Linked DNA regions of Homo sapiens: all the other regions are linked to region 3. The links come from fine-mapping of genetic effects on gene expression. A gene starts in region 3. Each other region holds a variant in brackets. All regions are shown on one strand. Distances are from middle to middle. Region 1 has its middle 160 kb from the start of YIPF5. Region 2 has its middle 83 kb from the start of HMHB1. Region 3 holds the start of HMHB1 (histocompatibility minor HB-1).

Region 1 (10,555 bases), 200 kb before region 3:
TTAGAAAAATAAATGGAGCCAAACTGTTGTCATTTGTCCTCATTTCCATATTACATTAAAGTACAGGTCACCTTAGGAACTCTGACACGTGTTCAGAGAGTTAGACCCTCAAAGTAACAGTGCATTCCTCGGCAAATTAATTCTTTCAGTATAGTCGTTTTTGTATTTACACTTCAAACTCAGAGTTTAGATATATGCTAGAGGCTTTTAATCTTCCTCGGTGATATTGAAAATGGTGAAATCTACCAAAATGTATTTATAAGATAAGCATGTTTAAGGAAGATGTCTTGGTCAGTGGAACAAGATAGGAAAGCATGCAGTTTCCAGCCTTGTTTTTTCCTCCATAACCCAACTCAGAAATATCGATTCTTTTTAACAGCATTTGATTCTGATGCAGTTCTGAGTGCACATTCAGAGGCAAAGGCCATGTCTACAAGATGCAAGTCATCCAACTGCAGAAGTAATGGCTCAAGGCAGGTTATTAAAGCAGCCTTGAAATCCAATCTGACCAAAATTGGACCATTAGTCAATGGTGAAATGTGATTTAAGAAGTCTCTTGAAGAGCCTAAAGATTGGATGGCTTGACTATTTGCAGCTTTTCTTCTTTTCCTTTACCATTGTAATATGCTGCTTTGTGTATGTGTGAGCCCACGTGTGTTGTGACTCTACTATATTTCGAACCCTTTTCCCCCAGCCTTGAATCTCCTGTTTCCTTAAGGAGAGTGTCTTGCATTTATATGGAATCCACCAACAGTTACTAAAATTACTTCAGTGGTTGTGCATAGGTGACTCTCGTTGTGCCTAAATTATGCCCTAGATTATGCATCTCTGTTTCTGTTAAATGAAATCAGTCAGATCAGTTAAAAGAAAAATCAAACATCACATAGACATAGCCAAAAAGTTGATTATGAAGCAAGCCATTTTAATATGATTACATCAGATTTTTTTTTCATTTTTACCCTTCTTTTTTTTTTTTTTTTTTTTTTTTTGAGACAGAGTCTCCCTCTGTCACCCAGGCTGGAGGTGCAGTGGCACGGCCTCAGCTCGCTACAGCTATTTTAAACCACTGCTAAAATTGGAGAGTCCCCTTAGTTTAGTTAGCTGGAAAGAGAATAAGGCTATGTCCTCTTCAGCTGTCACCATGAGGAGAAGTATTGGCTGCTGAATGGCAGCTGCTCTAGAGGGATGTGGTAGTGGAGCTGAGGGATCACCCAGCTGGTCGAGAGGCACAGGGTGGCAGTATGTATCCTCTATTCTGGCTTCTACCACAGGCATCAGTGCAGGCTCATGTTTAGCATTAGAAAAGCTCGTGTTCAGTAAGCTACCCACCAGCTCCTAGACACTGGTTTCAGACAGACTAGCTTGAGATTTCTACATTTTATGGGCCAATAGCAATGATGATTTTTTCCTTTCCCTCAGTCGCTTCCCGAGGAACTGGCCAGAGTATCTTTTCATGCCCTGAAACACCAAAGATCTGATGCAACATCCTTTCCTTGGCCTGGGAGCCACTTGCTCATCTTCCTGACACCTACCCTTTTAAGGAGTTCTGCCTTCAAGATCTTGTTAAATTAACTTTTGCCTAAAGCTGCCTGCCTACATGTATTAAGTGTGGCCTAAAGGTTTCTTCATACATAGTGAACCGTAATCTGACTTGATGTATAAACACATTGTAACATACTCATAACAAGTAGCCCAGTCTCAGGCAATTGCAGATAGCCAACTGTTCAAACCTGGTTTAAATAAGGCAAACATCCAGCTATAGCCAGTCCAACTGTTTATATACCTTACTTCTGTTTTCTATCTATCAGTTTTCTTTTTCTGTCCATTAAGGTTATCTGACTATGTAGCAGCCCCAAAATCACTCTGAACCTATTCTGGTTCTGGGGGCTGCCCAATTCATAAATCATTCTTTGCTCAATCAAATTCAGTTGTGAAATATGAGCTACAAAATAAAATTACTCTGGTTCAGAGGTCTAAAGTGGAATCAGGAAGCCATTCTAAGAAGGGCTATTTGCACAATCTCCACCTTGCAAAAACAGAAATTCGCCTCGAAACTTTGAATTGGGCCAAACCCGCACACCCAGAATATCATGAAAAATAGCTGACTTTTGTTACTGCAGCAACTCCTAAATAGCAACAAGCAATGAACTATGGACTCATGTACTAAGCCAGCCACATCCACCAATGATAATTCTTTCAAAACAACTTTTAAAACAACAACCATGTAATCACCATCAGCATCCCTTTGAAAATCCCTACTCCCCTTCATCTCCTCAGAATACAATTTGGCTTTAAGCGAAATCTATGTCTCTTCAATTGCAATTGCTAAGACCCCAACAAATGCCTTGTGTTACTGCATTGCAATCTGGTCTTTTGTCTCTTCTTAGTTGACACTGTTAAATTTAATTTGCATAAAGTTTTTGTTTTGACAGATGGTGTCAGAAGTGGGATTCAAAGTAGAACTTCCAACAACTTCCAGGCACATGGAGTTATCAAAAGAGGTACATACCAAGCCCATTATGTCCATTGCTCTCTTACAGCAACTAGAGATTGTAGGTAAGTTGTCTCACAGATTCAAAAGCTCTATGAATTTGTATTTTGAGCTATCTGACTTTGTTTGAGCAAATATTGGATCTAAACTGGGTTTGGAAGTCACAACAGAAACTGGACTGGGTCCAGAATCAGACTGAGTCCAGGATCAGATTGGTTCCAACAGTTAACTGGACTGGATCCGTTTAGAGGCCTCAGATGTCTGATTGAGTCAGACAGAAGCTGGCAGGGATAGATGAAGGAGGCAGATAAGGGAGAGGGTCCCCAGAGAATCTCTGACCCACCTGTGTCCTGGGAGAACAGGGTGTAGCCATGGGAAGTTCACGCTTTGTGCAGCAGGGAAGAGGCTGGTCTCTTCAGCAATGTGTGGTGGTCTGGTATTCAATCTGTGAGGTGGAGGGCCTGTTAGCAGGACTCTCTCTTACTTTGCTGAGACTTTTTTTTCTTTTCACCCAATAAATTCTCTTCTCACCCTTCAGTGTGTCTGTCCACCTAATCTTTCCTACTCATGTGACAAGAACCTGGTTTTAGCTGAACTAAGGAGCAAAATTCTGCAACAGCAATAAATGGCAATGACTGCAGGGAAGTACAAATTCTGGCATTCAGAAATTTGCAGGGATTTTTGTATTCTATTTCATTTGTTTCTTTTTCTTGTACACTTAGGTCAGGAAAAATTCTTGACTAAGTTGAGCAAGAGGATCTGACAGCTAAAGCCTAGATTCAACAAAACAATGAGATCCTTAATTTCTGAAGAATTGAGAACTCCACCTTCTGACTATTACCTTTAAATGTAGAAATATTAGGCCCCAGAAGCTGCAAACACTTACATAAATGGCAAAAGCTTATGAAAGATAATTTAAAGTTACAATAGAATGTTCCAAATTAACACTGCAATTTAAAAAGTTCATTTAAAAATGAGGGCTCCCGAATTAGGCTCACCCAAGGATGCCTAGCAATATGAAGAAACTTCTGAAAAAGTTCAGTATTTGAATTGCCTGTTTTTTTTCTTTCTTTCTTTTTTTTTTTTTTTTTTTTTTTTGAGACAGAGTCTCACCCTCTCGCCCAGGTTGGAGTGCAGTGCAGTAGCACAATCTCGGCTCACTGCAACCTTTGCCTACTGGGTTCAAGCGATTATCCTGCCTCAGCCTCCTGAGTAGCTGGGATTACAGGCGCCTGCCACCATATCCAGCTAATTTTTGTATTTTTTGTAGAGACGGGTTTTCATCATGTTGTCCAGGCTAGTCTCAAACTCCTGACCTCAGGTGATCCACCCACCTCAGCCTCCCAAAGTGCTGGAATTACAGGCATGAGCCACTGCACCCAGCTGTATTGCTTCTTTTAAAAGACTCCTTTAAAAGGACAAGTAAAAAGCTTAAGCTAGTAATTAATAGGAAAAATTGAAGCTGCTAAACTTTTGACTTAGTTACTATTCCACCTCAAAGGCGGAAAGAAAGCTAGGTAAAATGTTTATAAAAGGTATGGCTCCAGGTAAATTAGGCTTGTTTCTTTTTGAGAGCCATCTGCTCTGAGTCCACCCAGAGAGAATGCTTTCTTTGCTCTATTCTTTAATGGTCTGAAAAGAAATAAAAACTCAGTTAAAAAGACCTCCTACTGAGATAAATCAGTCTCCAAAATACAACTTTCACTATTTAGCCATTTTGAAAGCCTTTTGCAAAAGAAATTTACATTTACAAAGTAAATCTCCATTTGTAAGGTGTCTGCCTCTGTGCAACAGGAAGAGAAAAAGGAATGTCACCAGAAACAATAACAATGAAAACAGCATTGGCTTAAATTTACATAACAAATCTTACCTTTGTCTAAGGTGGCTTTCTTGGCTATCTTGTCTTAACTGGTCTTTTACCTACACTCTCCTTCCTAGGTTTGGGAAAATGATGATATTACATTGATGTCTCACCTCTGTGCCATTGAGATGTAAATTTTCTACCTTGTTTTACCTAAGCCATCTGTTTTGAAATACAAATGTAGGGTGAAAATTTTTAGATAGTTATTAAAAATGGGATGCAATATGAGGGTAATAATTTTAGATGGTTATTAAAAATGGGATAAATAAAACAGACAGCAATAGGGTTAAAACAAAGATGGAATCTACTGAAGGCTAGATTGGTCAAAGAGATACCTACTAATCCCCCAGCATTATAGAACTCCACACAGTCTGTCCTATTTACTTCAGTTGAGAGAAATTTAAAAAGCTAAAGACAGAGATTACAATGAGCAACCTAACTAACAATCACTTAGGGAATAATCATGCAGGTCAATCAAGAAAAAGGCCAGAGTTGTTTCACTTCACCCCTTTCTAAAATGGGTACAATGGTCAGTGGGTGGAGAAAAATCTTTAGAGTAAATTGTTTTGGGAAAAATTGAATGACCCTTTAGAAGAATGAGTAATGGTTTGGGATAATGTCTACTTGATGTGACGAAGTGTCTTCTACTGTGATGAAAGTTAATTTTTCCTGGTTACTGAAACTCCCTGGGGAGAGGATTGAGGACATTTGTGTTCCTTTGAAAAATTCATCTTTAAGAAAAATAAGGAGAATTTTTAAAGCCTTTTCCTTCTTCCCTATTGGTAGCAATAATCTACTAAGTCACTATATTTAGGGATGATATTTCCTAAATTCCACTAGCTAGTTTTAAGGGAGGAGACCACCTCTCATATTGTCTTCTGCCTAATTTCTGCCTCTAAGGAAAGAGAAAGTAGGAGTTAAAGAAAAGGCAGAAGTGAAATTCAATAGAAAGACAGCCTGGTGCCACACTCCGGGCCTGGTAGTTAAAGATCAACCCCTGACCTAATCACTTATGTTATCTATAGATTCCAGACATTGTTGAGGAAGCATTGTGTAACTCCCTGTTCGGTTCAGTTCTGTTCTGATCACTGGTGCGTGCAGCCCCAATCACATACCCCCTACTTACTCAATCAATCATGACCCTTTCACACGGACCACTTAGAGTTGTAAGCCTTTAAAAGGGGCAGAAATTTCTCCCTCGGGAGTGCAGTTTTTGAGATGTGAGTCTGCCAATGCTCTGAGCCGAATAAAGCCTTTTCCTTCTTTAACTTGGTATCTGAGGGGTTTTGTCTGCAGCTCGTCCTGCTACAGTTTTGTTTAGTAAGAAATTTAAGGGACAGGCTCACACCTGTAATCCCAGCACTTTGGGAGGCCGAGGTGGGGGGGTGGGTGGATCATGAGGTCAGGAGTTCAAGACCAGCCTGGCCAGTATGGTGAAACCCCGTCTCTAATAAAAACACA[A/G]CAATTAGCCTGGCATGGTGGCATACGCCTGTAGTCCCAGCTATTAGGGAGGCTGAGGCAGGAGAATAGCTTGAATCCAGGAGGTGGAGGTTACAGTGAGCTGAGATCATGCCACTGTACTCCAGCCTGGGTGACAAAGTGAGACTCTGTCTCAAAAAAAAAAAAAATTAGGCATAATTGTTAAAAATGAGTAAATTATACAAAAGTAAAGGACATGAAATTTTATAAATGAACTTGTTATTTTTTTAAAAATCTTTTTTTAGAAATTAAAAATCTTAAAGTCATGTTAAGCTAAATAATAGATACTCATTGAAAGTCTGACTCGTTTATAAGTGAGTTAAAATACTGAAACAATTATTAAGCATAACCTTAAGTTTATATATTTCAACACTTTGTTTTTATATGATACAGAGAAACTAAATATATTTAGGATTGTTAATAAACCCAAAAATAATTTTATGAGGAAATATGTTTCAAAAAATTATGAAATGGTTCTCATCAACAAAATATTGATATACAACAGTTCAAAAATTCTAACTTCCTAGGATTTCACTAAAAACTAAGGTACTAGAGTTTTTAAAAATTTAATTAATATAAGGTAACTAAAACAACATCTTGTATCAGGAAAGTAAGACACATTTTTGGTAAGTGAAGCTTACATAAAATATATGTTTTAGATAAGAGAAAAAAAAAGTAACTTTGTCCTAAAGTAAAATGACTGGCTCTTCCAAAATGAGGAAGAGAAAAGTTTGTAGAAGGTTTGTGAAACAGGAATCTTGTGAAAGAAATTGTATGTATGATCAAGGTGGCTAAAATTAGATGGGAACTATTTATAAGGTTTTCTAAAAATTGAGGATTAATAACAAAAGTACACTAATACAAAATTAGAATTTGGCTTTCTCTTTTAAACAAGATTTTTGTGTAACACTGAGAAGAGATAGTAAAAGATTTTTGTTCATCTTTTGAGTAAACTGAAATAAAAGAGGGGCAGGGGAGAAAGAAAAAGATATTTTTTGTGCTTCATGCTGTCTTTATTAGGTCTTTTGATTGTTAGAAAAACAGTATTCTTTCTATCAAAGAGTAAAGGTTTTTGCTTTTTTAGTTATCAGTTTCATGAAATCAATGACTATTATTTTACAATGACCTGTGAACTGATTTTGATAGTGTTATAAACCTTTGACAAATTTGACATGCTTTCCAAAATCAAATTTCAAATTCTAAAAATAAGTCTTTCTGACTTCAATCTAATTTGGGGATATCCCAAAGGGCCTCTGAAGCATCCAAACAAGAGATAATTTGATATATTAAATCATATGGGAAGCATTATTAAATAAGAAATTACATTTAACCTTCTTTGAGTTATATTTTTATGGATATGTTATAAATATGTGGTCAAAAATTGTATGCAGTTTCTAAAATTTTGAGATGTCTTGGTATATGTTATCAGTCATAATTATGGTTATTATGTTAAATTATTATGGGCTACAGGAATAACCAAATTTACTTGCCAATTGTGTCTTTAACCATGACTATTTTAAGACTTGTTGTCCACAGTTAATTGCTTAATTCTGATGCTTTTTTCTGAAAGTTCTTTACTAGCAATTATAATCTTGAAGAGTTGAGTCTTCCAAAAGGTTCATGGAAAGTTTGGGAAGGACCATGACAAGTACTATTGAATACAGATTTCTGATAACTTTAGGTTCATCTCATTTGGACTTGGTAAGAATTTCCAGAACTCTAATGAAGAGGCTGACTCATTTACAAAACTACTACCCCAAGCAGAAAAAGAATTAATTAAATACAAGGGAATTCTTTGGCAGATTTTCATGCTAATTCAACCAGTACTGAAATTGTTAAGATATGCAATTTGCATGAACTCCATGATCCAAGTCACATAACCTATGATAACCCACTTAATAAACAATGTTGTACACCTGAATTGGAGAAACAAAAATTGTATTTAGGAGGATTTAAATTCAGTGTCAAGCATGCACTCATGGAGAGCCTGGATGGCCATCTGGTCATCCTTTCTGCATCCTTAAAATTTCCACTATTAAAAGCTTTGCATTCCATGACACATCATAGAAGAGAGAAAATAATCCAAATTTTGAAAAAGAAATGTTGGTGTGGTGACTATTTTAAGTTGCCAAAATGGTTTATGAGCACGTTTGTTTTCTCAAACACATAATCCAGGGAAGACAATCAAACTTCAGGTACATTTCCACTGCTGAATGGGCAGTTTGAACATTTATGGAGGGATATCATTCAATTGCCATTTTTAATGCATGTTTTCTGGCTTCACAAAAGCTTTCCCATGTAGGAAAGTTAGTGGTACAACAGTAGCTAAAAATTTATAGGAAAATGTATTTCCCTAATGGGACATTCTTCAGTGATCACAGTACTTGTTTCACTGGAAAAATTGTAAAAGAGTTAAATGAGTTATTACAGACACTATAGCATTAAGCAAATATAACTGAATTGACTGTATTGCCTTGGTCAAAGATATTGCAGATGGAAGACAATCTGATTCACTTCCAGTGGAAAGCATAAATTAACCCCTTATTAAATAGTCACTAGAAGGCCTATACTCCTAATAGTAGATCCTCATGTATCTCCCACTCTCCTATACACTGATATGACTAAATGTTGCAAGGTTTTAATGCATTATGCCAAAGTATATTTTCAACAGGTGAAGGAATCTTTTCATGCTCCACCTACTAAGGACAATTGAACCCTTCATAATCTAGAACCTGGATGCTGGATCTTCTGGAAATGGCATCAGAGAAAGATTGCCCTTGCCACCCATATGGCAATGAGACTTTGGAACTTCAAAACTTGGGTTCATAATCTTACAAAACAGAAGGACCTTTTAGACTCTTGGAACTGTACACTCCTTCAAGACCTTAAGGTAAAGCTAAATAGGGAAGTTTCTCTTCAAAAGCAGATGGCATCCTAGACATACACAGCTTTCCCAAGATCACAGATCAAGACTCCTCTGCCATCATGAAACTCTTAGCTCTCTTAATCTTTTACTTGCTTATGCCTCTATGAACAATAGAACTTGAAAACGGGCCTTGTGTCCACCCACAGGGTGTACTTTCTTATAGAGGATTTTTCAGCCAGTCTTATACATGGGTAATCTTAAGCCTTGATGAATGGAAGATGAAGTGTCAATGTAGGTGGGAAATTTTAATAGTAACTTTATTACTCCATAATCAGTCAGACACCATAATCAATCAGAAACAGAAAGTTGGCCCACACCTGTTAAACTACATCATAGGTTAAAAAGAACATTTCCAGATGGCTTCACTCTTCTGGATGTGTATCATTTGTTAGGTCCTTTTTTCCATTGCTTGGAGTAACTACAAATAAGGCAATAATTAGAAATTTATCCCTCCTAAGAGGCTCCATAGCAGGTTCTACTACAAAGATTATGGTTGTACAACAGACTTGTTAAAATTATTTTGCTGAAGTTGAGTTATAATAGAATTGCTCTAGATTACCTACTCGCTGAACAGGGAGGAATATGTGCAGTTGCTGACACTTACTCCATATGGTTGAATATATCAGATATTATAGAGACTCAGTTGCAGAGGATTAACCAATAGGCTCTCTGGTTAAAATGTGTAGACTCTTCATTCAGCTCATTCTTTGAATCATTTTATTTTGATTGGTTCGATTTATAGAGACCCTGGGTAGGGAATATACTTCAAACTATTGTTGTTATTCTCCTACTAATCACAGTAATAGTCTCCCTGGTGTTTTATATTCTCTCAAAAGTTTTAAATGTTTGTATGCAGCCATCTGTAGAATACCAAATGATCTCTTTGACTGGAATAACCCAAACTTAAATGCATGATTATGTGGACACCATAACCTATGAATGACATGTTGAGACTGGAATCCCAAAATTATGGTAACTGAGAGTAGTACTGAAGCTCTAGATTTTTGTCATACTCTCACATAGGTAAAAACTTGACCTAAAGAGGGGATTATTAAACAAAATTATGAGAGGCCGTTGTTTGGGATTGAGCTCCTTCACTAGACCCCAAAAAATAAAGCAAACTGACATGGAATCCGTATTAGTTCATTTTCATGCTGCTGATAAAGACATACCCGAGACTGGGAAATTTACAAAAGAAAGAGGTTTAATGGACTTGTAGTTCCATATGGCTGGGAAGGCCTCACAATCATGACAGAAGGCAGGGAGGAGCAAGTCACATCTTACGTGGATGGCAACAGGCAAAAAGAGAGCTTGCACAGGGAAACTCCCATTTTTAAAACCATCAGATCTCATGACACTCATTCACTATCATGAGAACGGCTCAGGAAAGACCTACTCCCATAATTCAATCACCTCCTACCAAGTTCCTCCCACAACAGGTGGGAATTGTAAGAGTTACAATTCAAGATAAGATTTGGGTGGACACACAGCCAAACCATATCAGAATCACTCATGCTAAGTGCCACATATTCAAACTGAAGCTTTAAAAAAGCAGATAGATTCCAAAACTGATGGAAACTAACACCAAATATTTGTGAACTCCAAACTGAGATGGAATAAGCCCATTTATGATAATAATAGTGATGTTGATGCCTAAAGTTTTTGTCAATCTTTCAAAATTGAGAATTTGACCAAAAGGAGAAAATTGTTAAGCTTGACCTAGCAGTGCCTAAATATTTTAAGTTTGGCCTAGAGATTTCTTCACACTTAGTGAATGTAATCTAACTTCATGTGGAAA
Region 2 (10,555 bases), 82 kb before region 3:
CTTTTTTCCTGCATCATACCTAGCCCAGCCTTGCACATAGTAGGTACATGAAAATGTTTGATAAATATATTTTAAAAATACACAGATAGTTGTTTCTTCTGTACCCTGGTGAAGGATATAACAGCCTCTTGGCGCTGAACTATTCATGTTTCAGTTTCCCCATCACTAACTCATTTTATCCCCCTTTCAAGCTAGGCATGCAACAGACCCTCTCCCTTCCTTCTATTGATGCAACTACAATGTATCTGAAGCACTTTTAGTGCTTGGAAAGAAACAGAAAGTTTATAAAGACACAATTATTATAAATAGTATGGACTTTCTTTCACATCTCTTTGAATATAGATTCTTAGAGCAAATATTGTAAGAATATTAAAAATAAATTTCAAAATCTGTTAGTTTCAAGACAATTCCTCATTCATTCCTAACTATTCCATCTTGTATTCATATTTATGTTTTAATTCAGTTGGAGGCACTCCTTTCTCAACTAAGCCACCTAATCACATGAAAGATCATAAAACCAGTTAGAAGCTCAAATATTAAGAAAGAAATCAAGGTTAAAACATATATGTCTTCTGCCTATCTAAATACCCATAATTACTGTGATGATAGACAGCATTTAAGTGGGATTCTATAAATCAAAAGAAATATGTGCTGTCTTAGCAAATTACTGTGAATAGTCATGTCTAAAACCAAACAAAACAGTGCATTTTAAGCTTCAGTTACCATCTTGTATTTGACAGAAAAAAATCTAAGTTTTCAACTGAGCAAAACTCCTATAGAGCCATTTTTCAAAGTGAAGAATGAAACGTGAACTAAACTTGGAAGGAAAAAATATGCAAAAATAAAATGAAAATGTAAAGTAATTCAGTGTGAGCACACACACACCACACACACACACACACACACACACACACCTCCAGTATCCAGAAACTGTAGATAAGATTTGATCTTCAAACCACACACAATAAAAGCACCAAGCAGTCCTCCTGCATTCTGCTGGAACCCAGCAGAAGTCCTGGATGAAGTTTACTTTTCTGTTTTATTCATTTAAACTATGGCAGACCTCAAAAGGAACCCAGGAAACTGTGAAACCCCTGAACTTGAACTGAAGGAAGCAGGATGAAAAAACTTCTTTCCACAAAGATCAAGAAACGGAAAGAACTGTTTACATAACTGGGTTCAAGCTCTGCTTTATTCTCTGTTCACCCTGCTATCTCGGCTTGCATGCAGCACGCAGGCTTTCATCATGGGCCGTATTCTCATTAACTGGAGTGGCCACATGTGGGGTGAAGTGTGGGGCCTTTGACATAAAGGAGATTGCTAACCTGCTCAAGGTGACCCCTTGCTGGAAATTCATGGCGTAGCCCTTAACATCAACTCATGGTTTGAAAAGATTTATACTGTAGCATGCATATTACAATAATACATGCCAAGAACATAGTGCTTTTGTTGGGGAAAACAAGGTTATCATTGGTAGAAAAGCTCTATTACAAGGCCTTTAAATAGAAGAATATATCTGTCAAATGGAGAGCATGGTCAGTAAACAAGAACCCTTTGGGTATCTCTGTTATCTATTTCAGTCCTGGAAATGATTAGCAAGGAGAGATGAGAAATGAAAAGAAAAAGGTTATAGAGTGTTTCCTAAGCATGAGATAAGTGCTTTATGTGCATATTCTCATTTCATCCCACCACTACCGGAGGATGTGGTAGATTTACAGTAGCCTGTTTTACAAGCAAGGAAATTGAGACTCAGGTCACTTACCCAAATTCACCTGTAGAACAGTGCCTGGCATACAATAAACACTCAAATATTTGTAGAAGGAAGGAAAAGAGAGAGGAAGAGAGGGAAGGGAGATCAGATAAGGAGACATTTATTGTCATCAAAATAACAAATGAGGAAAGTCTAGCCTGGAGCAAGGGCAGTGGGATCAGAGAGGAGCAAACAGATTCATGAGCTATTTGAAGGAATAACATTATAACGTTAATAAAAACAAATACCTATTCAGCAATTTCTATGTGCCAGTCACTGTTCTAAGTGTTTTACTTTTGTTAACGTCTATTAAATTGTACTTATATGAGCTATTTTTTACTTATTATTTATTTTACTATTTTATCCTTAAAGCAGCCCCATGATACAGAGGAGGTCAAGTGTCTTAGGTCACTTTCCCTAGAGACAGCCTCAGATGGGTTTTCTTGTGCAAGCCATTTACTGAGGAAGTGGGAGAAGCAGGGAATCCTACTAGAATTCTAGGTTGTGAATAACACCACAGGCTTACCTGATTTGTGGCGTGGGGGCTGGACATTCACACCCCACATCAGTCCTTGGCTGCAGGCAAGCTTTCGAGCTCAGGCAGGTCTCTGGTCTCAGGTCTCTTTTCAGAACAACTGTGACCTGTTATTAGCCAATGCTTATCATCAACATCATCATCATCATGATTACCACTGAAAGAAGACGGGGTTTGAGAAGTCACCAAGAGCAAGGCAGAAGGGCTGAAGGAGAAAATGAGTAAATGGTGGTCAGGGAAGGAGGCAATGTGAAGAGACCCACCAAAGCTTGACCAACTGTCTGCCTTGCAGGAAACTAGGGAATGAGGCCTGAGATCTATAGGTTCATTCCCTTGGGAAGTTCTTATTCGGCAGAGGAGCAATAAAAAGCTCAGTTCTGCTTTATGACGAATATTTTTACTTTGCAGGGCTCCGAAATAAGGAATCTTATAAAACTTTATGGATATGGGAAGAAAAATCAGAGGGGCTTTGGTGTTAAGCAAGCAATTAAAATATATTCTCTTCAATCTTTTAGGAACCTAATAAGAAATACTAGTGCTCAGAAAAGCATGTTTTGTCCCTTGTTATTAAACTTTGACTAATTTTACATTAAAAAAAAGAAAGGCCCAAAACAGTAAGTTCATGAAATAGTAGACTGCTGATTATTCTGTGTCTATGAATTACTTTTCTTTATTGAGTTTTGCTTTTCTATTTGTTTAAAAGAATTCTGTTTCCTTCCCCTGCAATATTGAAGCAGTTTTGTCTCTGTTTTAATAGAGCATTTACATTTAGATAATGTTCTTCTGCACATTAAGATATGGTCATGGGAAAGGAAAAGTTGAACTTTTGTGCACAAAGCTGACAGTGGTGACTCACCACCAGCAGGCCAGAGGCTCAGAGCTGTTTTTTGAGCAGCAGAGAAATAACCAGCCCAGCCTCCCCAGAACTAAGGGAACTTGTCCATGACATAGATCATCTAGGAGAGGGTGTTTTCATCACAGAAATAATTGATTGTATGGGAATCATGTTTGCAATTTGCCCCCTTTCACCTCCATTATACAAGTTTATAAATGTCAGTCCTACATGAGTTAATTCACCTCCTGGCTGCCATTATCTGAGGCTGAAGAGTCAGTCTGATCAAAGATAAGCCCTCAACAATCATGGCACAAAGAATGGCTTAGGAGAGCTCTCCTAACCCACTCCAAAACCAACCCAAATGATTGGGTTTTTTAGATCCACCCCCACCTCCACCCCACCCTCTGCCCCAACCACATTGCTGCCTTCGAATCCTCTTATTTGGAAATTCTAGAGTTGGAAGCATGCTGTATGTTTTTTTGAAATTTTAGAAAGTGACTCAGTACTACCCTGCCTACAACTGGGTTTTGGAGTCATATTCCTTGTGACTATAGCCTTGAAAGGAAGCAGAGGCAGAATGTCAGCGCATTTTAATTATATAGCATTTCTTTAGCCCTAGAGAGCATCTTTCACAAGTGATTCTTAGTGTGAACCCTTATTTACTTTCTTTCATGGAAGTTCACCTTCACTTTGAAGAAGCTTCCCCATCTTAGACCCATTTCCTTAGATCTGGTATTCAAAAACTCTGGTCAGTGGCTCTCAAAATTCTTAACCTGTGTACAGAAATTCTCCACAGAATTTGCTAAAAATGCAAACTTAGTAGGTCTAGGGCTAGTTTTTAATCACAAATTTAAATTTTAAAAAAATCCCCTGAAGCATTATTGGGAATGTCATTGGGAGTAATGAGGCATTAATGAAAATACTGATTACTTAATAACAATAATTATAATGGTTCAAAAAGGCCATGACACTGATTTGGGGTTATGTGTCTCAGATTTTGCAGCATTTCATAATTAAGCTCTTAGGGATTACTATTTTTCAATAAAGACTTCAGCTATTTTCAGTAGATGACCTATTATAATTTTTATATAATTACTCTGGTCTTTATTTATCATTAACCATTTATTAAGCACTTACTGTGCACTAAGCATTTTATGCCTCTTATGCATTCTATAATTTTAGCAGTCAACCTAAGTGATTCTAATGCAGCAGGTCACAAATTCAGGCCCTCACTTTGAGACACTCTGGTACAATGATTAAGAGTTTAGGGTTCAGCAATCAGCAGATCCGGGTTAATTTCTGGCTTCGTATCTAACTAGCTGAGCATGTTGAGCCAATTACTTAACTTTTATATGCTTTAGTTTTCTCTTCTCTAAGATAGGGATGTTAGCAGTTTCTATCTCACAAGGTCATTAGGTTAAATCAATGAGACTATTAAATCAGTGAGGCACAGTGCCAGGTGACATATAAATGCTCATAACAGTTTACTATCAGAACAGGGATTGGCACTAGTAGGCACTAATAAATATTTGCAGACTGTGAATGAAAATAAATTATATTAACAGAGACAACTTTGCAGGTAGATCAAATGCTCTCCTAAGCCTCCATTACAGGTTGAGCATCCCTTATCCAAAATGTTTGGGATGAAAAGTGTTTCGAATTTGGGATTTTGTTCAGATTTTCTGAATATTTGCATATATATAATGAGATATCTTGGGGATGGGAACCACATCTGAACATGAAATTCATTTATGTTTCATATATACCTTATACACATAGCTTGAAGGTAATTTTATACAGTATTGTTTAATAATTATGTGCATGAAACAAAGTTTGTGTACATTGAACCATCAGAAAGCAAAGGTGTTACTCTCTCAGCCACCTACGGGGACAATCTTTGGTCATTTGGCATCATCATTCCTGACTCTGAATTTATATGCTACTTATAAGCAGTCATTTTTATACACTGATTCACACATAAGAACTTAACAGCAAAAAATATGACATACATTCATACAGTGAAAAATTAATATGTTCAGGGTAACTAAGCAGCACAGTGGCACCACCAGAATGCCTGCATCAGCTGTTCAACAAATGCAACAACAAACAACGCCAGGCTTGCAGTCCCCACCTGCAATGCTGTGTTTTGATTAAAAGATTACTGTACACTGTATTTTATTTTAGGTGAGAAGAAACATCAGGAGCTGATGAGGACCAGGAAGTGGGTCCTCAAGGGATGAGGAGGCATTCTGCTGGGTGTTTCCTCCAGGCTCTTCTGCCTCATTAACAATGTTTCTTGTTTTAGAATTCTCTCTTTGATTTTATAAACTGCCCTGATTTCTTGTTCTGTTTTGAATGCATGCTCCTCTAGTCCTTCAATAAGCCCATCACACATTTTCACTGTATTGTCTATAGGCATTTTCTGCAGTGTTAACAATGTCACTTGCAGCATCATATCAGCGTTCAAAAAGTTTCAGATTTTGGAGCATTTTGGATTTCAAATTTTTGAATTGGGGATGCCCAACTTGTATAAGAAAGGGCCAAAAAGAGAAAGAGGCTGCTTTTGGGG[G/A]CTTTAGAAGTAAGGCTACTCGAGAGAGAAGACACCGAACTGAGCAAATACATTGCTTTAAGAACCAAGATGTGCTCGTTCCAAGCAACTTCAAAACATCAGTGAGTGGCAAAGTATTTTGAATATAATGTGAAAATATAATTTGTAACTCTCTGCTGGAATCAGCAAAGACTAGACTGAAGTAGTGAAGAGGGCTAAAGCAGAATTTTTATATCCAAATTAAAACTAAAAGGAGGCATAATACCATTCATATTAGAAAGAAACCATGAATCACAAATTTAAAATTTAAAAAAATCCCCTGGAGTATTATTGGGAATATCATTGGGAGTAATGAGGCATTAATGAAAATAGTGATTGGTAAATAACAATAATTACAGTGGTTCAAAAAGCACATGACACTAATTTGGGGTTATGTGTCTCAGATTTTGCAGCAGTTCATAATAAACTCTTAGGGATTGCTATTTTTCAATAAAGACTTTAGCCATTTTCAACAGATGACCTATTATAATTTATTCTGGCTTTTATTTATAATTACCATTTATTGAGCACTTACTGAGTGCTAAGCATTTGATGCTTATCATTTACAACAACACTGCCAGACAGTTGTCACCATCTTCATTTTATAAATTATGAATAAAACTCAGAGGGTTATATGACCAATGTGAACTAGAAGTGACTGAGATGTGATTGAAACCCAGCTGTCTCCCAGCCAAGCTGTCCTTTCACAATACTCACTGACTCTTGGTGGTGATTAGTGCGTGTCCTTACCTAGCTAGCCAAGTGGAACCAGTGACCTCTGTGCCACAGCTGGCCTGCCCCACACCATGGCATTCCTCCATAGAACCTTTAGCTTTCAGCTCTGTCTCCCCATGATGATTAATTAAAATAGACAGTTGCCCAGTTTCTACATGGCTTTGGGCAAATTACATAATCTAATTGTTCTAAAGTACGTCTAATGACCCTAAAGATAAAGGCAACAGGAGGCTTATATCTGTGGCCATATTTTGTATTTTCTCATTTATATTACAAAGGAGAGTGAGAAAAATATTTTAACAAGCTTGTTCAATGATATGAACAATGTTAATGGTAATAATGATTAAGATATACTAAGTATTTATGCACCAGGCATCAGGCTAAGCACTTTACATGCAATATCGTATTTAACTCACCTGACACTGTGATGAGGTATTACCTCTATCATAAAGCTAAACAGATAAAGATTCAAAAGCTCTAATTGATGTCACCAATGACTCATAAACTCTAAGTGGCCAAGCCAGGATTGGAAACTAGGACAAAGGGGTCCATGGCATTCTAGGCAAGCCAGGTAACACAAATGAGTAAACACAGTCAGGAAGGGGCCATGGCAAATGTCAGAGCACATGTATGTTTTCAAGAATGGCTACTCAGTGCCAGCATTTTGAGGCTGTGTGGCAATTGTAGGCCCCAGTCTTCTGATGTTTTGTAATATCTGACTGGATGTAAAATCTCCTAATTTATAAACGTTGGCATCCATTTAATCCAAATGTGTTTCTTTAAACATTTCAAGAACCCAATAAACACATCTGTAGGCAGAGTGTGGTCCTAGGCTTCCTGGATGCCACTTCTGATTTAGAGCCTGTGCTCTTGGCCCTCAGGCTATTGGAGCTCCAGCGTCTCCTTAGGTCACCTTTGTGAATAGTCCTTTCCAGGTCTGTCATTCTTAGATCTATGGCTTCATCTTCCTCCTTGGTTCTCAGAGCTAACAGAAACAGCAAGGTAGAAAGAAATGCAGAGCAAGACAGACACAAGTTGGCAAAGGCAGAGGTTCAGTATATAGCTTCAATAAATATAACATCATTCCCAGAACTATCTTCCCGGGAGCAACCTTCCACTGCTCTGGGCCCAAGACTGACAAACATTTGCATGTACAAAGTTATAGAGCCAACTTTTTATTAAAAGAAATATATGGTGCCCTTTAGGGGTTACTTGCCTTTTACTTGGGAGAGATTAAACAGGTACACTTTCACAGGCAGAATTCCTTCAAAGTTTGGGAAATAAGACCATATGTGTGGTGCCCTTGAATTTTTCATTTTTTTCTGAAAGCCATCTGCTTCCTGTTATCCTGATGTGCTCAGTCATAATGGCAGTGTTGTAGCATGGAAATTGGCTCCATCCAGGTTTCCATATTGGTATCCAAAAATTTGTTTGTTTCAATTGACAGGCATCTCCCCTTAGGGATTCTCCCTAAGACAGCTGGGCTCACTGCCTGCCTAATCTTCACCCTGTCTTCAAAACAGATGAGGGAAGATCCACAGGCTGAGAAAGGCTAAGCAGCAGCACTTCGTGCATTTATTCCCCTTCCCACTCATGTTTATTAATATCTGGGCAGAAATGTGACAGTGAGAAGTTTTGATGCACACAGGAGGATGGCTATAGCAAGCGAGCAGTTTAATATAGTACCAACCAAGTGGGCTGTGCTGTACACAGGAGAAAAAGGAATCTTAAGTCTATTTTGCAAAAAATAACTAAATGCTGGTTTGAATCAGCAAATAAGCTACAAAATAATGTAGAAAACTAAGAGCTATGACAAAACATACTCTAAGCCTGGCCTATGGGATTTATAAATGCCATTTCTTTTTGGAAAGTTAAGGGTTCTTTGGTGATTGATAAATACTATTTGAGAAATAGGATTTTACTAGATCCTTAAAAAATCTGTAGAATTGGGAGAAATACCCTTGAAATGTACAGCAGTGATTTTATGAGTAAAAGGGACAAAGGTATCAGTCTATGACTATCCACAACCTTTTCCCCTCTTCCCTGTCTGTGAAGAAAGTTTGGATTTTGCCTACTCTTTTCCTTCCTCATCCTACCTGGAGGGTTCTTCCATTGGCCATGCTAAGTTAAGAGACTAGATGCAGAGAAAGACAGACAGCACAGAGGAAATATTGCTCTCTGGAGAACCCTAGGTCACAGGGGAAATAACATGCTGAGAGTCCATTGTGTGGGAAGGCAGAGGAGGAAGAGCGACAGGAGATGGCCTTCAAGTGGGATGACAGAGGTTGAATGGGTGAGACCAGGGAGGTGGTTCTGGAGTAGAGAGTGAGAGGGTTCCAGGAACTTCTAAGTCCACGGGAGAAAACAGCTTATTTTAATCCTATTCTCATTTATGTTGCTTGAGAATACCACAACTCATCAGAATTCCTGTTTGGATAGTGTTTACATGTCAAGTTTCTCATGAACTGAAGCACATGGGTCATAGCTTTAATAGGGTTATGACTGTCAATGAGTTTGCCTGTTTGCTATGCCTTTCCCCTCTATTTCCAAAGGGACAAAGAAACTTAACACAGAAGCACAAAGACATGTGACTTTGTTTTCTCAGGCGGGGTAAGGGACCTTTTCAATAAATATGACACTGTTCCCAGATTTCAGAATAATCTGCCTCAGGAAGCTGGAGGTCAACATTTAGTGGTGCCTTGAAGGAGTTTATTATGATCTTATCAGGGGGACAGGCACCTGTGTGACTGAATATGGATTGATATTTGGATTTTCTCTACAACTCTTATTCATTCGTTTAATCAATAAATATTTACTGACTACTCACCAAGTCTCAGGCACATGTTCCTGGCTCTGAAGATATTGTAATTAACAAAACCAATGAGTACCCATCTCTCACAGAGCTTATGTATCTTTTTAAACATATTTCTTTCTAATAAAAATGCTCCCATTAAGTAGGCAAAGAAATGTGAGTGGCAGATTATAAACTTGTTATTTAAGTCACTTGGGAAATTAAAATCATGCCTCAGAATCCCCCTGCTATGGGGAATAAGGGTTATGCCAAATATTTTCTTTTTTATCCATTCAAAAATAACTAAATTCAAAGGGAATTAAGAACACTTATCCTCAGCTTAACAGAGCCTGGCATACTTTCAAGAATCACAAGGAGGCAGCTGCAGGGTCAATAATACAGGCAGAGGGCTCTATCGGCCAGAGCTGGGCCCCATCTGAGGCACTGCATGTTTGGGCAAGTTGTATAACCTCTGTCTTGGTTCTATCACCTGTCATATGGAGTCGATTAGAGTACCTATCTCATTAGGGTTTCTGTGTGGACAAAATGAGCTAAGTTGTGTGAAGTGCTTAGTTTAGTGCATATCGGAGAGTACACTGTTATTATTATCCATTCTTATTATTTTGTTGCCTTGCCTTTAAAGAACGGGCTAGAGGAGCTCAGCTCTGTTTAAGTCTAAACTCTCTTTACAAAAGAAATGAATAAAAAGATGAGAAAGACTTACTGACAAGTGAAGAGATAGAATAAGCAAATCAAATAATGATACGTAAGAGTGCTGGCAAGTCTGTACAAGATTTAGAACAAGAGCAGACCATGAGATTTTTCTACATAACGTATCTGTGTCTATGTCTCTCTCTCTCTGTCTCTGTGTGTGTGTGTGCGTGTCTGCATAAGCCTAGGCAGCTAAATTATTTTCAGTAAACCACAGCTAGCTTTCTGATGACATTGACAAGCTTGCAACATCAAGGAGGCAGCAAGAATCCACCAATGCTGGTTCTGTGTTCCAGGAGCTGTTTCCAACTCTGAGAAAGTCCCCTGATGGAACAAATTATAATTTAAGTGGCATAAGCAAGCAATGCAAAATGCCAGTGTCAAGCCATTGAGGTTATTTCCTAGGCAGAGGGCTCATTTAACGAAGAAGCACATGACGTGTTTACTCCAGAGTCTTTTCATTGCTTGGATCAGCATCTAGGCTTTCAAGCAAAATTTTCTCCTGTTGTGTTTCGGGTAGAGGAGATGGGGGCAGACATCAGTCATTCTAATTCCCAAATTTGTCTCCAATCTTTTTAATAAGATTATTGACAGAGGTTTAATTCATCCAG
Region 3 (10,555 bases):
ATCCCTACCCTACCCTTCCCCTAAAGAATTCTATAAGTTCTGGTGGATGTGTAAAGGTCATGGGCAAAGAGTTAAGATTTAAACCCAGGGCTGTCTTACCACTTTGTTATGCTTCTGTTTCCTCTTTTACTATGCCTATTGGAATAATATAGAAGTTCAATAATTTTTTGAACAGAATTGCATGAATATTTGCCACAAATGACTAATGTGTCCTACCTTGAATGCTTCTTTGCACATTAGAGAATTAACTTGTCAATTTCTGATAAAAATCCAGCTGGTATTTGTATTGGAATTGCATTGAATCTATTGATCAGTTTGGGGATATTGCTGTCTTAATATTGAGCCTTCTAATCCATGAATATAATATACTTTTCCACATTTTCAAAGGTCTCCTTTAATTTCTTTCAGCAGTTTTGTAGTTTTCAGCCTAGAATTTTTGCATTGCATTTACTAATTTATTTCTAGGTATTTGATATCTTTGGATGCTACTGCAAATCAATATTGTGAAAATGACCATACTGCCAAAAGCAATCTACAAATTCAACACCATCCCCATCAAAATACCACCATCATTCTTCACACAATTAGGAAAAAACAATTCTAAAATTCATATGGATCCAAAAAAGAGCCCGCATAGCCAAACCAAGATAAGCAAAAAGAACAAATCTGGAGGCATCACATTACCTGATTTCAAACTATACTATGAGACATAGTCACCAAAACAGCATGGTACTGGTATAAAAATAGGCACATAGACCAATGGAACAGAATAGAGAACCAGAAATAAACCCAAATACTTACAGCCAACTGATATTTGACAGAGCAAACAAAAACATAAAGTGGGGAAAGGACACCCTTGTCAACAAATGGTGGTGGGATAATTGGCTAGCCACGTGTAGGAGAATGAAACTGGATCCCCATCTCTCACCATATACAAAAATCAACTCAAGATGGATTAAGGACTCAAATCTAAGACCTGAAACTATAAAAATTCTAGAAGAGAACATTGGGAAAACCCTTCTAGACATTGGCTTAGGCAAGGATTTCATGGCCAAGAACCCAAAAGCAAAGGCAATAAAAACAAAGATAAATAGCTGGGACTTAATTAAACTAAAGAGCTTTTACGCAGCAAAAGAAACAGCAGAGTAAACAGATGACTGACAGAGTGAGAAAAAAATCTTCACAATCTATACATGTGACAAAGGACTAAGGACTAATATCCAGAATCTACAACAAACTCAAACAAATCAGCAAGGAAGAAAAAAATCCCATCAAAAAGTGGGCTAAGGACATGAATAGACAATTCTCAGAAGAAGATATACAAATGGCCAACAAACATATGAAAAAACACTGAGCATCACTAATGATCAAGGAAATGCAAATCAAAACCACAGTGCAATACCATCTTACTCTGCAAGAATGGCTATAATCAAAAAATCAAAGCACAGTAGATGCTGGCATGGATGCAGTGAACGGGGAACACTTTTACACTGCTGGTGGGAATGTAAACTTGTACAACCATTATGGAAAACAGTGTGAAGATTCTTTAAAGAACTAAAAGTAGAGCTACCATTTGATCCAGCAATCCCACTACTGGGTATCAACCCAGAGGAAAAGAAGTCATTATGCGAAAAAGATACTTGCACACACATGTTTATAGCAGCATAATTTGCACGTGCAAAATCATGGAACCAATACGAATGCCCATTAATCAATGAGTGGATAAAGAAACTGTGGTATATATATACAATGGAATACTACTCAGCCATAAAAAGGAATTAATTAATGGCATCCACAGTGACCTGGATGAGAATGGAGAGTATTACTCTAAGTGAAGTAACTCAGGAATGGAAAACCAAATATCATATATTCTCACTCATAAGTGAGAGCTAAGCTGTGAGGACGCAAAGGCATAATAATGACACAGTGGACTTTGGGGACTCAGGGGGAAAGGGTGGGAAGGGAGTGAGGGATAAAAGACTACAAATAGGATGCAATGTATACAGCTCATGTGATGAGTGCACCAAAATCTCAGAAATCACCACTAAAGAACTGACTCATGTAACCAAACACCACCTACTCCACAATAACCTATGGAAATGAGAATATTTAAAAAATATATTCTTGGTAGCAGAATAATATTCTCCCCCAAGATGCTCATGTCATAATCCTCAGAACTATGGCAAAGGATAATTAAGTTTGCAGATGGAATTTAGATTGCTAATCAGGTGACCTTAAAATAGGGAGATTCTTTTGGGTTATCTGAGAAAGCTTAATGTAATAAAAGGGCCCTTAAAAGTGGAAAAGAGGGCTGGGCACAGCGGCTCACGCCTGTAATCCCAGCACTTTGGGAGGCCGAGGCGGGTGGATCATGAGGTCAGGAGATCGAGACCATCCTGGCTAACAAGGTGAAACCCCGTCTCTACTAAAAATACAAAAAATTAGCCGGGTGCGGTAGCGGGCGCCTGTAGTCCCAGCTACTCGGGAGGCTGAGGCAGGAGAATGGCGTGAACCCGGGAAGCGGAGCTTGCAGTGAGCCGAGATTGCGCCACTGCAGTCCGCAGTCCGGCCTGGGCGACAGAGCGAGACTCCGTCTCAAAAAAAAAAAAAAATACAAAAATTAGCCAGGCATGGTGGCGCTCACCTGTAATCCCAGCTACTTAGGAGGCTGAAGCAGGAGAATCACTTGAACCCGAAATGTGGAGGTTGCAGTGAGCCAAGATTGCGCCACTGCACTCCAAATCCAGCCTGGGCGACAGAGCGAGACTGCATCTCAAAAAAAAAAAAGAAAAAAATACAAGGAAAAAAGAAAAAGTAAAAAGTAGAAGAGGGAAGCAAAACAGGAAAGTTAAAGGGATACATTACTTTGAAAAAAGGTTAGAGAGCTGCAACATTGTTAGCTTTAAAGACGGAAGATGGGACCATGAGCAATGGAATGCAGGTAAATCTGTAAGTTGGAAAAGGAAAGGAAAAGGATTCTCCCTAAGAGCCTTCAGCTAAAACCACAGCCCCACTGACACCTTGACTATAGCCAAATAAGGCCCTGATTGGATTTCTGTCCTCTTAACTGTAAGATAATGAATTGTGCAGATTTAAACTACTAAATTTGTGGTAATTCAGTATAGCAACAATAGGAAACTAATACAGAATTAGGGAAAAGTTCAGTAATTTAGGTCTCTGAACTTTGTTAGAAAGGTCAGTTCTCTCTTCTCTTCACCCCTAATCCCTTCATTCATGGAGCTTGCCCCATGGTGACATCCTACAATTTGCCAGCTTTGGGAACAGTATCAGACAGAGCAACATTTGCATTTTTGCACCATCCATGCTGCAAAGCTGAGCAACAGAAAGGTTTGACGGGATAACAAATATCAACAAATGAGAGCTAGGTCAGGAAGAAAACCTGGTAGAAGCCACACAATATTTGTGCAATAGCCACAGGTATTTGTGGGCACAGGTGAAGCACTACTTTGAAGGATAACTTTTAGTGGGGACAAATTCCATTTTGAGAAAGTAGGAGACTAAAAGATAAAATTTTTATAATTATGACTCTATTTGTAGGTGAGGCCAGCTTGGATTATGCTAATAATAAGGTATACACTAATACTGGTTACTTTCTGAAGTTTATGACATAATTTTAAATATAATTAGAGACGATTGAAGATTACCCCTATAATGACAGCATCCTTGCATATTAGTTTTTCAATATCTTGAGTGATAAAAAATGAGGAGGATGTGAGATGTTGTGCTGGGAAGTGCACATAGGCCTCAGACTGTCCTCTCTCTGACAGCTAAGTCCTGAGTGAGCTCCTACTATGAACTGAAACGCAAAAAATGGAAAGAGCATTTGTTGGGGCCAGTGTAAGTCAACTGTTTCCATCCTTATTCCTTAACTCAAAAACTCAAATAAAGAAAGACATTGTCAATTTCATGAGCGGTCCATATTTTTTTCTATTGACGAGAGACAAAGAATAACAAATAAAAGTATTTTATAAGGATATGAGTTATAAAATTAACTTTTTGTTATCTCCAAATTGTTATTTTGCAAGGAAAAAAATATAAGTAACAAATATGAGTATTCCTTTTTTTGGATCCATATTTGGCTGGATGCAGCCTGGACAGGTGTCATGGTTATAGATTATTGTCATGTGTCTCAGTTGTGATTTCAGTATGCTTATTGCTAGTTCTTTTATTTTGCCAATGGCTACATTTTTAATAAAGAAAAAGACAAGGATAGATGAGGAAAATATAGAACATTTTTATCTTCAATGCATGTCAGTAAGAATGATGCTATGAAATTTCAGTTAATAATGAAATTGGAGCTACAAAGACCAAATCATAAATAAAATGAATTTGCAATAGTGTTACTCATAGTAACACATAAAAATATGAAAATATCATGTGCCATATTTGCCTCTGCACTGAGTTATATCTGTACTTCTGCTTCAATACTGTAATTGGCCATCTCATTTCTATTGCCTATGGAGCAAAAGTCTGAAATAAAAAAGGTATGTTCATATTTATTACTTATATTTTTTTCCTTGCAAAATGACAATCTGGAGATAAAAAAAGTTAATTTTATAATTCACATCCTTACAAAAGAATTTTATTTGTTATTCTTCCAAAGGAAATCCACATGCCATTTACTTTATCTCTCACCAATAAAAAAAAATATGGACTGCTCATGAGACTGACAATGTCTTTCTTCATTTGAGTTTCTGAGTTAAGGAAACAAGGATGGAAACAGTTGACTTATGCTGGCCCCAACAAATGCCCTTTCCATTTTTTACTTTTCAGTTCAGCTAACATTTATTGACAGCTTTTACTGTGCCAAGCACTGTGCTAGATGCCAAGGATACAGAAATGATTAAAACACAGTTCCTTCCCTCAAGAATCCCATGCTCTGATGGAGGAGGCGAACAAGTGCTTTAGGCCAAAATGTAAAACTATGAGGGCACCAAAAAGGGAGTGGTTTATTTTGCCTGGAAAGAAATAAAACCTTCATAGAAGAGGTGACATTTGAAAGGGGCCTTGAAGGAAAAAAGGGAAGGTCGGTAGTTGTCTGTATGAAACAATAAAACAGCATAAAAATTCTAAAAGAAAGTTCTGTTTGTATTCTGTGGGCTACCTGTGCAACTGGATCTGAGCATTCCCTGGGGTGGCTGAGGGGGCTGTGTGGACCAGACAGAGCACAGGCTTCCCCGGCCTCATCAGTCCAGGCTGAGTGACCTCCAGTTGCAGGAAGGAGAAAACAGCAGATCCCTTCAGTGCACGGCACCAACACCTCCTATAACGTCAACCCAGGGCTCCGTGTGTCCTCTTCAAGAGGAGAAAACAAGACAAAAAAACAAACAAACAAACAAAAAACACGACAGCAGGGCCTTTCTGCCATTTCCTGGCTCTGAAATGAGGTTAGTGAGTTAAGGAATGAAGCCATCGTGTCTTTATCTGTAAACTGGGGAAAGCTATACCCCCCTCAAGTGCTTCTGTGAGGATGAAAGAGAGAAATGCATGCAAAGCCCCCGGCACATGATCCTAAGAAGTGGGAGCATGGCGATGATGGTGATGATGGTGGCCATGCTAAGGATAAAGGACGGGTCTGGTCTCTGGGCTGCCTTGGGAAGCCTGAGCATCCCACGCGGTGGGCAAGAACAATGTGATCTTGGCTACCCTGGCTCCGACCCAGAGGGACTTCCTGCCCATCTGCACTTCCCTTGCCGTTGTCCTTGTGGCTCAGGTGGTGCAGGCAGCTGCTCCAACTGCTGCCTCTGGTGCCCTGACAGCTGCAGGCAGCCAGGCAATGGGCTATGAAACCGAACCTCAACTGGAAACTATCCGCCCTAAATAATCCCAGCAACAAGGGCCGTCTCACTCCTCTCCCCTGCCTTCCGCCATCCCTGTTTTCACCTGTTGTGGTTTCCCTCTCATTCCACCAGCATTTTCTTTCATTTTCTCTGCCCCTTCGCTGCCTCTTTCCCTCTCTCTCTGTTCTCCCTCCTCCTCGCTCCCTCACCTCTTTTTTCTTCTCTGCATTCTGGCTGCTCCTCCAGTTCTGGTTTCTCCACTGTGGTGTGGCAGAGGATGTGAGGTCAGAAGGCTCAGGGCCTGCCCGGCTTCTGAGATGCGGGGCAAGCCGCCTCGGCCTCCTGGGATGTGGTTTCCTCATCTGCAGAATTGGACCAGAATGACTCTGGAGTGTTCCTTCCGTTCTAAACTCCCGTTCTGTTACATTGTGTTGTGTTAGCCTTTGTGCCTGCTTTTCCTGCTTCAGCTGTCTCATCTGTCCACCTGCCTCTTCCATCTGCATCCCACCACTCGGGTCCAAGCTGCCAGCATCCCTTGCAAGGACCCCTAGAGCAGCCTCCTGCTATTGGAGGTCTCTCTGCTCCTGTTCTTATCCACATCCAATGTGTTATCCACACAGAATCCACAGTGACCTTATCAAAATAGAGATGAGATTGCTCACTCAGCTTAAATCCTCCAAACTCCTTTACACCCCTTTTCTATCATAGGTCCCTGTTTATGTTCTTCAGAGTAATTATTATTGCCTGAAATTATCTTTATTTACTCATGAATTTCTTAATGTTGATGTATCATTTGCTGTCTGTCTTCCACACTAGAATGCAGGCTCCAGGAGTGATGGACTTGATTGTCTCGTTTACTCCATATCCTCACTGGAGGGGCCAGCGCCTTTATTCTCTCCATAAACACTGAATGAAGGAACCTCCCTTTGCCGCAGAATCCATCTCTCCCCTTCTTGAGAGTATTCTCTCCTAACCACACCATTTCTTACTTAGAAATACCTGTGCCTGCCAGAAATCCTGCCCATCCTTCTCTGTCATTTCTGATATAATTCCCCTCATTCACTTTTCTCAGTCAGCCGGGTCCTGTGTTCCCATGGGCTATGGTAAAGAACAATGGCAATGATGAAGCTAGTTCTTCTTTCACTTTAATGTCAATCTGTGCCGTTGGATGCCTTAAGATAAAATAACTTAACAACTCTGAGACTTGAATCTAGTTAATTGTCTTACAATGCTGAGAAAGAGACTTCTTTAAGAAAATATATTAAAACTTCCAAAATTCTGTGCTTGGTTCTTGGGGAGATGTTAGGAGTAGCCATTTTCTTTAAAACACCTCTTTAAAGTAGGTAATGTTAATATGTCCATTTTACAGGTAACAAAACTGGGATTTAGAGAGTGCACAACTGGACAAGGCCATAGAGCCAGAGGTGCATGGAGCCAGGATTTGAATGGAAGAAGTGCAACGCCAGACCCAGGCACCTAGCCACCACATGGGTGACCCTAGTCACCCTCTCACTCCCTAGATTAGATTACTCTGCATTATTTTCACCATAACACTTATAAATACCTGATGCGATCATATTTCTTGTGTCTATTTGCTTCCATTATAACATAAACTCCATCCAGGCAGTTACCATATCTGACCTGTTCACTGCACTTATTCCAATACTTACAATAGTGCCTCATACATAATGGACGTTCAATAAATATTTGCTAAATGAATTAGTTATTTGCATATTGAGGATGAGATATGAAAGAAGGCCTGATAATTCTGTATATAAAACTCCATCTTAGCCAGGCACTGTGGCTCACACCTGTAATTCCCAGCACTTTGGGAGGCCAAGGCAGCAGGATCGCTTGAGCCCAGGAGTTTGAAACCAGCCTGGTCAACATAGACCTCATCCCCACACAAAAAAAAATAATAAATAAAAAATAAAAAATTAGCCAGGCACGGTGGTGCATACATGTAGCCTCAGTTACTCAGGAGGCTGAGGCCAGAGGATCAATTGAGCCCAGGAGTTTGAGGCTGCAGTAAGCCATGATCACTCCAATAATGCACCCCAACCTGGATGACAGAGAAAGACTGGGTCTGTAAAAAACAAAAACCATCTTCTTTGATGATGGAATTTTCTCAAAAGTATCTTCAGTGTTGGCATATCTTTTTCCTTTGAGAATGCATTGGCTTTTTGCAATTAGCCAAAACTGTTAAAGACTGCTTTTTTGTCAAAAAGAACATATGGTCATAAAGCATCATCACTGCTTTTCTTGCCCTGAAATTAGATCTATTTGTGGAGGTGTGGAGGTCTAACTTTCTGTGCTTTGGGAAGCTTATGCACTCTGGTAAGGCCCCTGGACTCTGTCTCAGAATCATCATTTTTATAAGTATAAAAGAAAATATATAGAATTATAAAGAGCCAATTATATTGAATACAGTTATCAAAATGTTAAAAATTGTGACATAGTAACATATTTTCTTCTTTAATAACATATTAAATAAGAAGATCTAAAAATGTCTAATATCAACCTGGGAATGATATTTACAGATATCTGCAAAAACTAAAATGTGTTATGAAAATAACAGAATTAAATTAGACTCAGAATTTTCACTGGTAACAAAAATTTAGGTATTACTATTGCTTTCATAATTAAAGGAAACTTTAACTTTCTATTTTTCCTTTTTTTTTTTTTTTTTGAGACGGAGTCTTGCTCTGTCGCCCAGGCTGGAGTGCAGTGGCACAATCTCGGCTCACTGCAAGCTCCACCTCCTGGGTTCATGCCATTCTCCTGCCTCAGCCTCCTGAGTAGCTGGGACTACAGGCACCCGCCACCACGCCCGGCTAATTTTTTGTATTTTTAGTGGAGACGGGGTTTCACCATGTTAGCCAGGATGGTCTTAATCTCCTGCCCTTGTGATCCGCCTGCCTCGGCCTCCCAAAGTGCTGGGATTACAGGCTTGAGCTACCGCGCCTGGCCAGGAAACTTTAACTTTCATAAAGAGGTTAGTACAAAGAAAGATATAATTTTTCCTGCCCAGATTTACAGGCCTCTGAATCTTATCCACAGACTCCATGGACCCCAAATTTTAAAACCCTATATTAGAGAAATCCAGAATAGGTTCAGCAGTAGCAGCTACATTTAAGTAAGTGTATTACCTCTTAAGGTGACCTTAAACAGGTTATTCTTTACATGGTGTATAAGTTCTGACATACATGGTTATTTTTAAAATTCAGCACCACTTTTAAACCTACTGTAAACCTTTTAAAATTTTAAATTATTTAATTTTAAATTAATTTTTAAAATTAAAGATTTTAAATTAAGTTGTTAAAATTCAGCATCACTTTATACCTACCAATAGCGGGCATAGTTATAATCATTTTAATCTGTTTGCTTATTCTGTATCTACATATATATGATATAATATTCTGAAAACTTTTAATCCTTGACTATTATAAATTTATAAATTTTATTGGTAGATTTTATTTTATATTTTTAATTTGGTCCTCCTCTTTTATCTTTTCTTGTTTATTTTGACCAACATCTCCCTAACCCCTTTCCCAAATTTATTGATTTTTACATATTAATTTAAAACAGTTCATGCAGTCACATAATCCAAAAGTTCAAAAGGTATAAACGTACAGAAAATCTCCTTCTATCTCTGTCCAGAGTCACCTGGGTCTCTTCCTTTAGGGCAACCAATATTAGTTTCTTATATATTCTTTCAGAGATGCTTGAGATATACAAGCTTGTAAATTGTAGCATATTATCCCCATGATTTTCCACGCTCTTTTTTTTCACTTACTTCTATGTCTACAAGTTAATTCTATATTGGTGCCTTAAAACCTTCTTCATTTGTTTTTGTGGCTGCATAGTCTATTGTAAGGATGTATCATAATTATTTAACCAGTCTCTTAGTGATGGGCATTTAAGTTTTGCTATTCGATTTGCTGTTTACTATCATGAAAATTATTTGCTATTAGAAAAAGAGAGAACAGCAAAAAGTATCATCTAAGATTGGAATTTTGTCATGGACACCCACATATGTGGGACTTAGAATCATGAACCCTAAATATAAGTAGGTGGCAAGAGATGTATACCATATAGAGGTTAATATAACATATTGAAAATCACAATATCATGGATAATACCCCAACAGGATAGAGAGGAAACACAGAAACGTCATCAACCCTTTCAGTGGTCTAGGCCAGGTTTAGCATTTTTCAGGACCTAAGAGGGGATAACTGAGGGCAGGTAGGATATCCCCAATTTGACAGGCCCCTTTGGAGGAAGCTTGAAAGTTTCAACGGAGCACATTTGTTTTGTTTTGTTTACTCTGGCTCTCAGGAACAGAGGCTTGAGTTAATAACACTCTTTGGTTCATGGCGCAATGTCATCAGTGGTCCATGGAGGTTCCTCTATTGTGCTTATTTATTCCCCTTAACCCCCATTTCTGTCTTTCATTGCCCCCCTCCCACATCATTCTAAATAAATGTGTTTAATGTGTATATTTTTATGTGCAAAATGGATATGATGATATTTTGTGCATGTGTGTGTATTTCAGATTTACAGCAATGATACTGGATTATAACTAATTCTATTTCTTCTTCCACCTCCACTATGTTGTATGGCCCCTCCGTGTTTCTACACAAACATCTAATTCATGGTCTCTAACTGCAGGGTGGTCACATCCATCACTTTGTATCCACCTGCTTTCTCAGTGAGGGACAGCCAGGGTGCCTCCTGCTCCTTGCCACCAGAAA

Evidence for each region. PIP is the estimated chance that this variant, and not a neighbour inherited with it, causes the effect. A credible set is the group of variants that fine-mapping cannot tell apart.
Region 1: its variant is the best candidate, but not a certain one, in a credible set for the expression of HMHB1 in subcutaneous fat (FUSION, PIP 0.50).
Region 2: its variant is the best candidate, but not a certain one, in a credible set for the expression of HMHB1 in lung (TOPMed, PIP 0.74).

What each region holds. Positions count from the first base shown.
Region 1 is chr5:144,005,333-144,015,887 of GRCh38, reverse strand. No RefSeq gene overlaps it. Among named protein-coding and RNA genes, the nearest start is that of YIPF5, 160 kb to the left of the region's middle. The variant A/G (reference allele first, on the strand shown) is at 5,814.
Region 2 is chr5:143,889,772-143,900,326 of GRCh38, reverse strand. No RefSeq gene overlaps it. Among named protein-coding and RNA genes, the nearest start is that of HMHB1, 83 kb to the right of the region's middle. The variant G/A (reference allele first, on the strand shown) is at 5,690.
Region 3 is chr5:143,807,760-143,818,314 of GRCh38, reverse strand. HMHB1 (histocompatibility minor HB-1) reads right to left here and starts at 6,154. Exons shown (of 2, transcript NM_021182.3): 1 at 6,011-6,154. The coding sequence starts at 6,047.